3 linked regions of the Homo sapiens genome follow. The protein of the gene in region 2 interacts with the protein of the main gene of each other region in a pairwise test. Each region holds a gene or a part of one and is shown on either strand. Other genes may lie near its edges.

Region 1 (4,742 bases), on a different chromosome or scaffold from region 2:
CCTTATTTCTGCTCATGGCCTATTTGGGCCTGGAATTTTATCATGTATTTGTTTGGTAACATGTTTATTTTCTGTCTCCCATGCTAGAATGCAAGCTCCATGAGGGCAGGGATTTTATGTTGTTCACTGTTGAATTTCTAGAACCTAGAACAAGTGCTTGGCACATAGTAGACACGTAATAAACATTTACAGAATGAATGGAACATTAATGTTTACAATAGTATAATTTGCAACACACTTGATGGTTCACAAAACACTCCCATATCTGCTACTCCTTGGTCCTCCCAACAATCCTGGGAGGTGGTCGTTCATCTAATAATATATATATAAGGGCCCACTTATGCCAGGTGCCAAGTACTGGCTGGGCATTTAGCTGTGGCAAACAGAAATGGGCCTTGCCTTCATGAAGCTCACAGACAGAAGCCCCATTTTTTTCACCATCATTTAGTGCCTTTTCGTGATGCTAGTCAATTTAGTGGTACTTTACTTGATCTTCCTTCATTTTATTATAACATTTTTGAGGTATAGTGATCACAATTTGCACATAGCATTTCTGAGTCACATAAACCATAACATAGAATATATATATATTTGCATCTGACATGCTGTGTGAAATTCTAGTTAATTTCTACTATTAACAAGCTTATAGTGACTTCCCTAATTTTGTTAGTCTTCACAGCTATAGCAGCACATTTGTGCATTGTAGATCCTGAAAACCTACAATATGGTTGTCAAAAAGTGAAGCCTGGGCAACACAGTGAGACCTCATCTCTACAAAAAATAAAATTAGCCAGGCCTGGTGGTACATGCCTGTAGTTAGTTGGGAGGCTGAGGTGGAAAGGAGGATCACTCGAGCCCAGGAGCTTGAGGCTGCAATAAGCTGTGATTGCAGCATGGCACTCCAGCTTGGGTGACAGAGTGAGACCCTGTCTCTCAAACAAAACAAAACAAAAACCAGGCTGGGCACGGTGGCTCACTCCTTTAATCCCAGCACTTTGGGAGGCTGAGGTGGGTGGATCACAAGGTCAAGAGATCGAGACCATCCTGGCCAACATGGTGAAACCCCATCTCTACTAAAAATACAAAAATTAGCTGGGTGTGGTTGCGTGCACCTGTAGTCCCAGCTACTTGGGAGGCTGAGGCAGGAGAATCACTTGAACCTGGGAGGTGGAGGTTGCAGTGAGCCGAGATAGCGCCACTGCACTCCAGCCTGGCGACAGAGTGAGACAGGCTCCATCTCAAAAAAAAAAAAAAAAAAAGAAAAAGAAAAACCATTCACTATTCACTTCTTTATTCACCCATCTATCAAACGTCGGTGCTTGCTTTGTGCCAGGCATTATGCTAAGTACTAAAAATATCAAATCTGTAGAATCAAATAATACATAGTCCTCAAGGAGACTCAGAAAAAATAGACTTGGGAACAAATATAGTTCCAGGTAGTGAATGCAATAATAGAAATAAAGTATACCAGGTCTTGGGGTAGCACCTTTTTCTTGGTGGAAAAGGATGGCAAGAGGGGACTTAGCAAGACCTATGAGTCAGGGAGAATGGTGGTGTGTGGGAATCTGGGAGGCTGGGCTAGGGAGAATCAGAAAGGACTAATAGATAAGAGATTATGTCAAAGGAGCAGAATGAGTGAGGTTGAGAAACAAGGAGCACAGGAAGTCAGGAACAGAGAGAGGAATTTCAGAATTCAGGAATTTGGTGGAGGAGTAGGGCTGAGTGATGATGAATTTGTAGTTGGTAGGTAGTGGAGGTGGAGTTGTTAGAACAGATAAAGCCAGGGAACTGTAGGGTAGTGGAGGTGGAATTGTTAGAACAGATGAGGCCAGGGAACTGTAAGGGAACGTGTTAGAAGCATTGTCAAAATGGGTGTGGAGGTCCCAAGGTAGAGGAAAATAGTTCATTTGTATCTTTTCCTCAATTTCTCATCTATCTAAACTTGAGAAAAGCTTCAGGTTTGTCCTCATAACTAAAATATTATATGTGCTAGGAAAAAAGGTATAACTATGAAATAAACTGGTTATCTGAAGACAAATGTCCTATTTTTATCCCTTTCAAAGAGGTAATACAGTTTGTACACAATTACAATCCAATCAAGATTTGTTTGCATGAGCAGTTCCAGTGTTGAAATATCAAAAGCCTTTTATAGTCCTGAGAATAATTATATTGTACACCTTGATTATAAGCAGCAAATTTAATTTTTAATAACAGTCTGAATATAATTGATTAAAACAATGCCAGACAATGTTGCAGTAAAGCTCAATGAGGGTTGCTCTGGACACTGCTGCAAAATAATCTAGAACACTCCCATGCCCTTTTCTGGAATAATGCATCCAGTTCTAGTCCAGGCACCCTGTCAGCAACAGTGCCATGTCCCTCAATCTGAACATGCAGTTTGTACTGCTCCCAAACAAAACAGCCTGACATTTCTCAATTATTTAATGAGCTGGTACACAACTAGCTTTCCTTAAAGAGGTAACTCCCTGAGCAGAGCACAGCGTTTCAGTGTACAGGGTCAGCAGATGCTGACTACAAGTACCTGGAGGTTCTCATCAGGGCTTTTGGGGAATATTAACAAGTCTTCACTGGCTTAGAGTCTGTGCTTGAAGGCAGAAAACTCATGTTTCAAAAGCCAGAGAGTTTTTTGAAAAGACGGACATTTACTAGTTGTGTGACCTCAGCAAGGTATTTATTAGTATCTCTACGTCTAAGTTCTTCGTTTGTAAAACAGGGATCCTACTGGCACCTACTACTGAGCATTAAAGGAGATAGTGTATGTGTGGCACTGGAAACAGTGTTTGGCATTTAGTAAGTACACAATAAATGTTAGTTTTCATGATCGTAATCACATTATCCTCATCAGCCTGGAAACTTTTTCAAAAACTATCTGTATGTAAACTACCTTCCATCCAAATCACCAACCTAATGTTTATTAAGACTGTCCTACTTTACCATTGAATAAGGAATGTGGATGTGTAATTACTACATTTATCCTCAGCAATAGTCATTGCTTTGGAATTGGCAAAACATTCTTTTTGCACATCATCCCTTCCAATTTACATTTTGCAAAACTAGAGCAAAACTTTGTTTAATGTAAATATTTCTTGACATACCAATTCCATACATTGTGCAAATTGTCTTCATTTAAACAAAGTTGGGTTCTGCTATTGCAATTCTCATGTTTTGTTAATTTTATTAAAATGTAAATTTGCCCCTATCAGTCCTGGTTTAGCATTTGCAGTTTATTAACAGAGAAGGAAATAGTTAACATGAGGTTTAGGGAAAAGAATGTAGAATTCCTTACTGAAAGACTATTTCCTACAGTTGACCAATATTTTTCTCATAAAGAGCAGCAGAACCTCCTGGGAAGTCTTGGGAGGAGAGAGGACTCACCTGATTGTGATAAAAACCAGGCACGCCTAGTTTACAAGCCTCCAGGTTGAGAGGTTCTTTAAGATTGTTCATAACACAGCATTGACGAGGCCAGGGATAGTCAGCATCATTATTCTCAGTCCGGAAGGCAGATGTGTATTTTTGCCAGTCTGATGGACCATTTACGCCACAGCAATTGTCCTGTCAGCAGATGAGAGATACAAAATTCTCTTTCGTGGTCCCTACTAGAGCCATCAATGTAGCAACTGAAATTTTATAGAGAAAGAAGATACGGAAAGTGTACCATATCTTACATTTACTAAGAAATCCCCAAATGACAGCTGAAGGTATTGATAACTTACAACTTACATTTTACAGTTTGTAAAAGAATTTTTACACTTCCTACTTTACTAGTCATTAGTGAACCCTGTAGCCATTGACATGTTACTTAAACTGTCTAAGCCTCAGTTTCCTTAACTGTAAAATTGGAATATAGTACCTATCTCATAGAGTTTTTTTAAGGATTAAATGAGTTAATATACTTAATGTGCTCAATACAGTGCCTGGCTTATGGTAAACTCTTAATAAATGTTAATTATGATTGATACTGTACTAATATATTGATATAACAATGTGAGAGAGGAATAATTATTCTGATATATCAGAGCAAATTGAGAATCATAAAATTAAAGATTATATCAAAGCAAATTGAGAATCATAAAATTAAAAATTTTAGTGGTGAAGTTATGAGTAATTGTTCTTGTTTTGCTTTTCTATACATTTAAACATTTTTTAGAGTAATTAGGTATTATTTTTATAATGGGAGAAAATAAAGTGAAAAAAATAACCTGGTGACACAGAGCTATGTCTCCACATAGGGGAGGGAGACCAATTAATACATCCCTTACACTCTGGATAGAATTGAGAATAGAGGACAAAACACAATTCATATAGCTTTCCTTCTTTGTTATCAATTCTCCTAAAATCCTTCAAAAGGGAGGAAGTTAAAACCATGGGTATCTTGGAACTTTTAGAATGAATGTATTCAAGTAAACTTGATGATAAATCAACCATCTTTAAAGGATATACAATTTTGTCACTATGTTATGGGAAATATCTAACCAAGAAAAATAATTATTCTGCATTCTGGGAAAAATGGTTAAGTCTAAGCCAGGCTTATTTCAAACTAGGATTTAGTGGGCACAGAGAAGATTTAAGGGTCCAAAATTGAGCTTTGTAGCACTCCAAGCTTCAGATTTGGGTAAAGAGTGACAACCCAGCAGAGGAGACTAAGCGGGAGTAGTCAGTGAGACAAATGCTGATAAGATGTCAAAGAAGATGAGGACAGAGACTTGGCTATTGGATTT
Region 2 (5,286 bases):
AGCTTCCTGGCTGCACTTCCAGCTGGTAAAGAGTAGACAGGGGAAAGTGGGGCACCAGGTCCTGCCAACATACCTATAGCAAAGCCCATGCAAAAAGCCACATCAGCGATGGCGTAGACACTCCCATACACCGAGGTGTGGCGTAGATCCACCAGGTGCCCCATGATGGGCATCATAGAAGAATCCACCATGCCTGTGGCCAGAGCAAACAGGACACAGTCAGCCCCACCCACAGTTAGTACCACCCCGCCTCTCCTCCTCCATTTAGTCCATTTGCTTTGTCTGCTGTCTTCTGCCTCGGACTAACACCTGTTCCAGGTGGGAATTACGAGCTCATCTCTCCACAACCCTGCCAGCTGCCCTCCTGATCCTTCTGCCTCTGCACCTACCTCCTCTGATGAGAAAAGGGGGAGGAAAGGCATCAGACCCAAAGCCAACATGCAGGGGCTTATTGTTTTCTTTGAGGGCACTTCTTACCTATGGCAAGGCCAAGCCCTGCATTGGGGCCAATGAGACCAAAAATATTGTGAGCCAGAGGAACCTGCATGGGGAAGGAGGAAGAGTCATCAGGACTCCAGATGGGTCAGGTGGGAGCAAGGTTCAAAGAGTTTTCACATGAAATGCATTTATTCAGAGTGCACTATTGGCCACATACATCATCCTCCTGCACTCTCAGACTTTCTCATGGAAAAGAATCTATACCTCCATTTTAAGGATATGAAAACTTGACCAGCGCTGTTGTGTTTATTTATTGCTCTATCCAGAGTTACAGATCTAATGAGTGGCAAGATCAAGTTTGGACCTCAGACTTGGCTCCATTATGCTCTAACGAGGGTCTTCCTCTGTTCCATGGATACTTTCTCCCCTTCCTCTACCCCTCTTCACCTAAACATACACTCCTGGTCTCATTCTTCATGGAATAAAGTTGCCTCTGTTTTCCATTATGGACATCACTGAAAGGTTTCATTTAGACTTCTAACTTGGTAGCTGTTGGAAAAAGAAGATAGAGAAGAGGCCCCAACAACCAGTTAGCTGTAAGCTAGAGGGGGCAGGTGGTGTGGCTTGGGTCCCCTGTCAGGAAGCTTGTGAGACTCATTCCCATTGCCCTCCCAATCCCCCAACAAAAACCCCTTCTTCCCTCTTTTTCAGGTTCCTTACCTCCCTCTCTGGGTACCTGCCATTCAAACCTGCTACCCCAGGACACTCACCCCTTAAGGGTTTAGCATACCGTTTAGATGCTGCTGGCTGATAACAATTTTTAGGGTTCATGCCTCAAGAAATGTTTATAAATTATCAATAGTATTGGCTGAGATTCACTATGGGCTCACCATGTGCCAGACACTGTGGTTTATTTGGATTACCTTGACAACCCTGTGGACACCATCAGAACCCTCTCTACATAGATGAGGATGCTGAGCACACGGAGATGAAGTAACCTGCTCAAAGTCACATGCATAGAAAGTGGCAAAACCTGCCATGGAACCCGGATCCCATGCTCCTGCTCAGGACCTCCAGCTGGTCTTGAGCACAGTTTACAGTGCCTTGTAGCCCTGTTCTTCTCTCCCTCAGGCCTAGGAGGTTTGTGTGTTTCTCATCCCCACTGGGGAGAGGAGGAAATGAAGGCTTTGAGAACTTGAGGGGGATTCTTGGAAATGGAAAAGTCCTTCTTTCTTTCTTCTTCTATCAAGCCTCTGGTGCCAGAGACTGGGACATAGATGATGGTTCCCTGGGGATTTATGAGGCTCTGTCAGGGTGGGATGAGTAAATGAAGTCATAAAACGCACCATTTTGCCATCCCCAGAAATGGATACCAACATGTATCACTTCATATGCCCACATGTACAGCCTCAGACCTCCGGCTCCAGCTGCCCTACAGCCCTCTTCCTCTCCTTTCCCACTTCCCCTCAAAGGAAAGCCACTGCAGCTGGTGGCCTCTTCCCCCGTGCTAAATTCCTGCCTATTCAGAAACAGTCTTTCTGACAGTCCTTGCCAAGCCATCTCTGCTCATCTTAAAGGAAATTAGTCTTTAAATGTCTGTGTCTTTCTCTCTCTCTCTCTCCCTCTCTCTCTCTCTCTCTCTCTCTCTCTGTCTGTCTGTCTCTCGCTCTCTCTCTCCTTCCCCTCCCCCAGGTCTTCTTATACTTACACAGAGCAAGCTGGTACCTACTACCAGCATCCCGATTAGGGAACACAGCCACCTGGAAGAAAAAAGCCATCATCAAACACCACTAGGGGAGAGCTCCCCTCCACCTGTACCCCATCACCGCCATGCTGACCTGTCCCACCAGCCCTAATCCCAGCAACCCCTTAGGACCTGAGGACAGCATCCCTACATGACCAGTTTGTACCCAAATGAGCTCTCTCCCTGCCCTTTCCTTGTCTCCCCTGGCTCCATCCCTTTTTCTATAGAAAGGCAGAGGAGGTGCCGTGGGACACACTCTTCCTTCCCTTACAGGAGGAATCAGCTGACTCAGGAGGCACTTGTTCCTTAGAAGTAGCCCTCAAACTTAACTCATGCTGTTGCCCAGCTCAGACTGCCTCCTACCTGTCCTATTTTATTTGGTCCTTGAGGTCTGTCTCAAAAAACACAGAAAGTACCAAACTTCTTTCCTTCTCTGATGTCCTATGGCAGTGCTTCTAAAATCTTGATGCTAAACTCCAAAGATAAAATTAAAGCTGTCCTTATTGTAGTGAAGGGACAGAATGGAGACTCATAGCTCTTGGCCCCCAACCCTTCCTCCTCAGTGGCCTCTGGGGTGCCTCTATAGAACTCCTTAGGATTCCACAGAACATAATTTGAAAACTACTTTCCCAAAGTACTGCATTTTTCATAGCTGTTCTCTGTTGTGGTTATTTTATCTCCTCAACTGGACAGCAAATGGATGGAAAGTAAGGGGTGCCCCTCATGTATCCACTGCCTCTTCTATAACAATCAGCTCAGAGCTCAGGACAATCCATTCTCCATACCACCCTCACCACTCACTCACTGCCCATCCTCCCAGTGGGAAGTTTTTATCGGTGTGTACTCATCCTAAACTTTCAACCGTATGGAAGCTGTTCATCATTCCAAGATCAGGAACGGGCGCTCTTCCATCTTACATTTCTACTGTTCGTCCCAGATCCCGAGGCTACATACCGACCCATCTTGTTGGCCAACACACCAAAGAGGTTGGTGCCAATGAGGTAGGACACACTGGCAGGCAAGAAAGCTAGACCTGTGGAAGGACACAGATCCTTACCTTAGGACATGTCCAATTTACTCTAAAATGCCTTGTCTCGTACAAGACACTGAAGTCCACCCCTGTAACCTTCCAAGATCCCCAAACCACTTTGTTTTATGATCTGGGGACCTTTGTGCAAACCCACAGTAGTTGCCATAGGACCCCCACACCTCTCCTTTCTTCAGGAGCAAGGCTTTGTTTAGCCTCAGTACTTTTCTTTTTGTTTTCTTTCTTTTTTTGAGACAGGGCCTCACTCTGTCACCCAGGCTGGAGTGCAGTGGTACAATCTCAGCCCACTGCAGCCTCGACCTCCTGGGATCAAGTGATCCTCCCAGCTCAGCCTCCCAAGTGGCTGGGATTACAGATGAACACCACCACACCTAGTTGTTTTTTTTTGTTTTTTTTTTGTTTGTTTGTTTGTTTGTTTGTTTTGTAGAGATGGAGTCTCGTCATGTTGCCCAGGCTGGTCATGAAATCCTGCCTGCCTTGGCCTCCCAAAGTGCTGGGATTACAGATGTGAGCCCCCACACCTGGCCTAGCCTCAGTACATTTAATGTGCTTCCAGCTCCCCACTTAGATTCCTAATGAATGGCCCTGATGAGCCGTTCTCATGTATAAAATACCCTTGATTATCAGCGTGAGAATGTGAGCTTCAGAGGTGGTGTGGTTGGGTGCCACATACCCATACATAATTCCTGGGAAGTGAATTCCTGCCTTGCTACTTACCAGCCCTTCTATTTCTCTGAGAGGGATCTTGGATTAATTACTAAACCTTTCTGAGCCTTGGTTTCCACATCTGGAAAAAGCAAAGCTATGATTATATCATACCGGGTTACAATGTGGAGCAAATTAGGTAATGCATGCAAAAGTATTTTGTAAATTGAAGTCCTGAACACATGGCTTTTTGTGACAGTAGAGGGAAGTGTTCAGGAAACATGGGCTTTGGAGCCACACAAAGCTCCAAATTTTGCATTCAAACCATGGCTTGATGACTTGTTAGCTCTGTGACTTTGGACAATTTACTTAACCTGTCTGAGTCTCTTCCATTCATTCATTCATTCATTCATTCATTTTAACAAACTTTGACCATGTGTCAGGTATTCTGGGGGCTGGGAATACAGCGGTGAATAAGACAAACAAAATTCTAGCCCTCAGCTAGCTTACACTCCAGGGGAGGGAGACATACAATGAACAAGTAAACAAATACACAAAAAAGATAATTTTGAAAAGTGTTGAGTTATGTGCATGAAATTTAATGTGGTGATATAGCAGAGCAACTCAGAAGGGCTATCTGGGATTTCAGGGTTGGGGAAGGCTTCTTTGGGGAAGTGACATTCAAACTGAGACCTTAATAACCAAAAGAGAGCACTTCAAGCAGAAAATAAAAAGCACCTAATGGAAATTAAGATGTCTTAAAGAAATCATTTAGTTTGCTCTAAGAATAGAAAGGATATCTGTGTGCCTGAAATATAAGAGGAAAGTGGAGGGTGAGAAAATGAAGGTCCTAGAAATGAATCTGGTTATTCCAAGGGCAATGGAAGCTTTGGAAGGAAATGACATAATTGGATTTATATTTTCTAAAATCCCCTAGAAGAATGGGTTCATGGGACAAGAGTGGAAGTCAGACTATTTGCAGAATCCAAGAGAAAAGTGATGGTGCCTCAGATTAGAAGTCATGGTGGAGAGAAGTGAACAAAATGGTAGGTTTTGGAGGTAAGTTGGTGACATTTTCTGTTTGATTGGGTAAAGACATAGCGGGAGTGAGGAGGGGAAGTGAGAAATCAGGGATAACCTAGGTTTTTGTCTTAATCGATTGGGTAGCTGGAGATAGGGAAGACTGGTTGAAGTGCAAGAGCATGGGGGGAACGTGAGAGGTTTGAAGTGACTGGTAGATATTCAAGCAGAGCTGTCAGGCAGTTAGATACTTAAAGCCATGCAAATGGATGGGATTGCCTATGAAAGAACAAATAAAGAATAGAGATCCAAGGACTGAGCCTTGGGGGACTCCTATCTTTAGACATTAGCAAAGAAGGCAGAGATAGCACAGGAGATGAGGAGTAGCCAA
Region 3 (4,742 bases), on a different chromosome or scaffold from region 2:
CTTCCGGTCTGGGTGCCAAGTGTGGCTCCCTCCAACAGCCCTGCCATCTGCCTCTCCCTTCCTCCCTCCCTCCTCCTCCTGGCTTCTCCTCCTCTCTTCCCTTCCTCTCCCAGCCTCTGTTTTTTCTCCCTGGGGCTCAGGCCCGCCCAACAGCTTTGCACACGCTGCTCATGTGGGACTCCCCACATGGCTGGGGACTCCCTGGAGCAGGGGCCATGGGTTCCGATCCCAGTGACTCCAGTTAACCTCTCTGGGCCTCAGCTTTTCATCTAAGGAGGGGATAACAAAACGCACCACAGCAGACTTACGGCAGGCCTTTTAAACTTGCATTCAGGCCAGGCAAGATGGCTCACACCTGTAATCCCAGCACTTTGGGAGGCCGGGGCAGGCGGATCACTTGAGGTCAGGAGTTTGAGACCAGCCTGGCCAACATGATGAAACCCTGTCTCTACTAAAAATATAAAAATTAGCCGGGTGTGGTGGCGGACATCTACTCAGGAGTCTGAGGCAGGAGAATCGCTTGAATTTGGAAGGTGGAGGCTGCAGTGAGCTGAGATCGTGCCACTGCATTCCAACTTGGGTGACAGAGCGAGACCCTGTCTCAAAAACAAACAAACAAAAATAACTTGCATTTTCTTTTCCTTTCTTTCTTTTTCTTTTCTTTTTTTGAAATGGAGTTTCACTCTTTTAGCCCAGGCTGGAGTGCGATGGCGCAATCTCGGCTCACTGCAACCTCCACCTCTCGGGCTTAAGCGATACTCATGCCTCAGCCTCCCAAGTAGCTGGGACTACAGACGCGTGCCACCACGCCTGGCTAATTTTTTGTAATTTTAGTAGAGATAGGGTTTCGCTATGTTGGCCAGGCTGGTCTCGAACTCCTGACCTCAGGTGATCCACCTGCCTCTGCCTCCCAAAGTGTTGGGCTTACAGGCATGAGCCTCCACACCTGGCCAAAATTTGCATTTTTATAAACTCTCGAGGCCTCCCCAAACCCAGGCCCTCCAATCCCATGTTACAGATGAGGCAACCAAGGCTGAAAGAGGTAGGGGTTTTCCAAGGTCCCGCTCTGATGGCCCTGCTCCTGATGCCCTAGGCTTTCTCAGGCTCTTGAGGCCGCCCCTGGGCTGTCCCTGGACATGAGGAAGTGCCCAAAACACAGCAGAAATCTATCACCTCCCAGCGGTCTCCTTGCAGCTGACCCTGTCCTAGACCTGAGAGAGAAGAAGCGGCGGAGCGGCCGGCCACAGGAGGTGAAGAGGTGAGAAAGACTCCAGGGTGGTCAGCAATAAATAACAAACAAGGGCCGTGGGCCCACCTTCCTGTCTAGGTGACAGGGCTGTGCCCGGTACTGGGAGAGGACAGGCTGGACGTGACCACGCATTTCCAGCCACAGAGCCCTCTCCAAACCAAGCTTCCACAGGAGCTTCCGAAATACCCTTGACCCTCTCTCCAGCTTCCCACTGCCCTCAGAGGAAGTCCAGCTTGTGAGTCTGTCATCCAAGCCTCTCCTGGGCCACCCCTTGGGAATTCCTTCTTGTAGTGACCCGAGCCTCTGGGACAGTGCTTCCCACTCAATCCTGTTCTCGTTATTGGAGCGAGAGTGCCTTGGGGTGGCACTGAGCACTCAGCTGGCACTGAGCAGGGGACTTGTGGAATGAACAAATGAACATCAGAACTGGCCAGAGGTTCTGTCTCTACCCTGGACCCTCTTCCCCAACAACCGCTGGTCCCAGAATTTTCCTGTGGCCCCATGGCTGGCACATGGCAAGTTGGTTGGGGGAGGCAAGGGGTCTTATCTTGAAACTGCTGTGTTTACAAAAAACGTTCAGCTTTTTTTTTTTTTTATTTGAGACAGAGTTTTGCTTTTGTTGCCCAGGCTGGAGTGCAGTGGTGTGATCTCAGCTAACTGCAACCTCCGCCTCCCGGGTTCAAGCGATTCTCCTGCCTCAGCCTCCTGAGTAGCTGGGATAACAGGCGACCGCCACCACGCTCAGCTAATTTTTGTATTTTAGTAGAGATGGGGTTTCACCATGTTGGCCAGGATGGTCTCGAACTCCTGACCTCAAGTGATCCACCCGCCTTGGCCTCCCAAAGTGCTGGGATTATAGGCGTGAGCCACCTCACCTGGCCAAGTTCAGCTTTTTTATTCAGTGTTCACTTGGGATGATGGGGGGTGGAGTGGAGGGGGTGAATAAAACCAGGGGTATGAAGCTGCCCCCCTCAGGCCACCCCTTGGTGCCATGGATATCCAGGCAGAGAACCCACAGGGAGTACACAGAATGTGGAGCCCAGCAGTCCGGGTTCAAACCAAGTCTCTGACAAGCCCAGGCCTTGAGCTAGCACAAGTCACTTCTCCAGGCTGAGCCTTAATTCTGTCATTTGTAAAACGGGGGGAAGATACCCACCCCACTTACAGAACCATGTGGTATTATGGCCAAAGCCCTTAAAAAATGAACCCTGAAAATGGCAACATTTCAAACATTTTATCATTTTCATTTTGTCAAAGTAGAGAATTAAAGAAACATTGACTGGGCACGGTGGCTCACACCTGTAATCCCAGCACTTTGGGAGGCTGAGGCGGGTGGATCACTAGGTCAGGAGTTTGAGACCAGCCTGGCCAAGATGGTGAAACCCCGTCTCTACTAAAAATTTAAAAAGTAGCTGGGCATGGTGGTGGGTGCCTGTAATCCCAGCTATTTGGGAGGCTGAGGCAGGAGAATCACTTGAAACCAGGAGGCAGAGGTTGCAGTGAGCCAAGATCGCGCCACTGCACTCTAGCCTGGAGACAGAGCGAGACTCCATCTCAAAAACAAAAAACAAACAAACAAAAAACTCATCTGCCAGCACTGATATTCATTCCCTATAGTCCATCTTAGCCCCCTGCAAAAAAGAATATAAACTCCAAATAAAAGGTGGTCCTTTCTATTAAATCAGTTTAGCTTCTTGCTGTAACTCCTTTTTTTCCCATCTGGCTTTAGAACAAAGAAATGAGTCACTGACAGGCGGCAGTCACCGCGCAACAGATCAGGCACTTCTGACCCAGCCCAGCCCAGTTCGGGTGGGAAGACTGAGGCACAGAGGGTGGGGAGGGGACACTTACTGAAGGTCACAGCTGTGGCCTGGGGGTGCCAGGAGTGGCAGCTGATCTGCCACTGGGGCGATGACACCAAGAGGTGAGAAAGCCTTAGTCAAGAGACAAGCCATGCCGGATGCAGTGGCCCACGCCTCGCCTCATCGTCCCAGCTGCTCACAAGGCTGAGGTGGGAGGATCACTTGAGTCCAGGAGTCTGAGACCAGCCTGGGCAACACAGCAAGATCCTGTCTCTAAAAAAATAAAAAAGAGACAAGCCAGGTCTTGGAGGCCCTGCTTCTGTGCAGGCTGACCCAGGGGCTCAGAGGGCTTGGGTTCCAGGGTGGGTCCAGGTTGGTGAGGCCCTGAAGCTTACATGATTTGGGGGCCCTCTTTTGGAAAAGCAACAGAAAAAAAAATCTTTCTTTTACAAATTTTACAAAAATCCCAGGTCCAGGCCGGGTGCGGTGGCTCACGCCTGTAATCCCAGCACGTTGGGAGGCCAAGGCAGGTGGATCACCTGAGGTCAGGAGTTCGAGACCAGCCTGGCTAACATGGTGAAACCCCATCTCTACTAAAAATACAAAAATTAGCTGGGCGTGGTGGTGTGTGCCTGTAGTCCCAGCTACTTGGGAGGCCGAGGCAGTAGAGTTGCTTGAACCTGGGAGGCGGAGGTTGCAATGAGCCGAGATGGCACCATTGTACTCCAGCCTGGGCAACAGAGCAAGACTCCATCTCAAAAAAAGAAAAAAAACAATCACAGGTTCATGTGCACATGCTGTTAGGGCCCCTCCAGGGCTGTGGTAGGGGTCTGGGTTGTCCAGGAGTCCTGGACAGGGTGACAAATTGTCCCTGTTTGTCTGGACTAAGGGCCTCTCAGAATGCTAAAGGCAGGAAGTTCCAGCACACCAGGATAAACGGGTCACCCTGGTCCTGGAGCTCAGCTTCACTTGCTCTGCCCTGTGGTGTGAGGGCCAAGAGCAGGCGCCAGCTGCATCCCCCGCAGCTCCTGATGTGTTTAAATGGCTCAGCACGCCACACAGTTTCGAAAAGACCAGAAGGAGACAGCACCCTATTCACTGCAGCCCTCCCTAAGTGGTGGTATCACATGATTACCACCCCCCACCAAACTTTTTCTGTTGTGGTAAAACACACGTAACATACAATTTACCATCTTCACCATTTCAGTGGTGTTAAGTACATTCCTACCGTGCAACCATCACATGTGATTTTTATACTTTCCAATAATTGGCAGGTATTACTCTGATCAGGAAAAAAAGCTACTTTTAAAGGTGTCAATCAGCCTGTATCAGACACCTCTTGGTTCGACAAAGGTAGTGAGCGCCTTGTATCCACGTGTGTGAGCAGGACTGGGAGGCTGTGGGGTCGTTTGAGCATTGGTTGGTCCAGGTGACCTTTGTGTCCTTTCCAATCCTGACATTCCAGGATTCTGGATTCTTCCCTGCCCCAGGGGGAGAACTACTCTTTGGAGACAGGAAGACCTAGGCTCAAATGCTCGTCTGCCACTTACATGCTTAGTGACTTTGGGCCAGGCACTTGGCCTCGCTCGCTGAGCCGCAGCTTCCTCTAGTGTTGGGGAACCAGCTAGGTAGCTGTGTGTGGTCTTGCACCCCATGGGTGCTCAGAGGGGCTGATCCTTCCTCCTGCTTTC

The links. The genes of interacting proteins can lie anywhere in the genome.
Region 1: the proteins of SLC18A1 (region 2) and UPK1B interact in a two-hybrid assay, tested with the Homo sapiens proteins (one large-scale study listed by BioGRID).
Region 3: the proteins of SLC18A1 (region 2) and SYNGR1 interact in a two-hybrid assay, tested with the Homo sapiens proteins (one large-scale study listed by BioGRID).

The regions. Positions count from the first base shown.
Region 1 is NC_000003.12:119,193,053-119,197,794, reverse strand, and holds part of UPK1B (uroplakin-1b), read right to left. Parts: intron 3,577-4,742; coding exon 3,397-3,576; intron 1-3,396. UniProt on the Homo sapiens protein: Component of the asymmetric unit membrane (AUM); a highly specialized biomembrane elaborated by terminally differentiated urothelial cells.
Region 2 is NC_000008.11:20,147,530-20,152,815, forward strand, and holds part of SLC18A1 (chromaffin granule amine transporter), read right to left. Parts: intron 3,216-5,286; coding exon 3,137-3,215; intron 2,199-3,136; coding exon 2,147-2,198; intron 542-2,146; coding exon 478-541; intron 194-477; coding exon 74-193; intron 1-73.
Region 3 is NC_000022.11:39,351,946-39,356,687, reverse strand, and holds part of SYNGR1 (synaptogyrin-1), read right to left. Parts: intron 1-4,742. UniProt on the Homo sapiens protein: May play a role in regulated exocytosis. Modulates the localization of synaptophysin/SYP into synaptic-like microvesicles and may therefore play a role in synaptic-like microvesicle formation and/or maturation.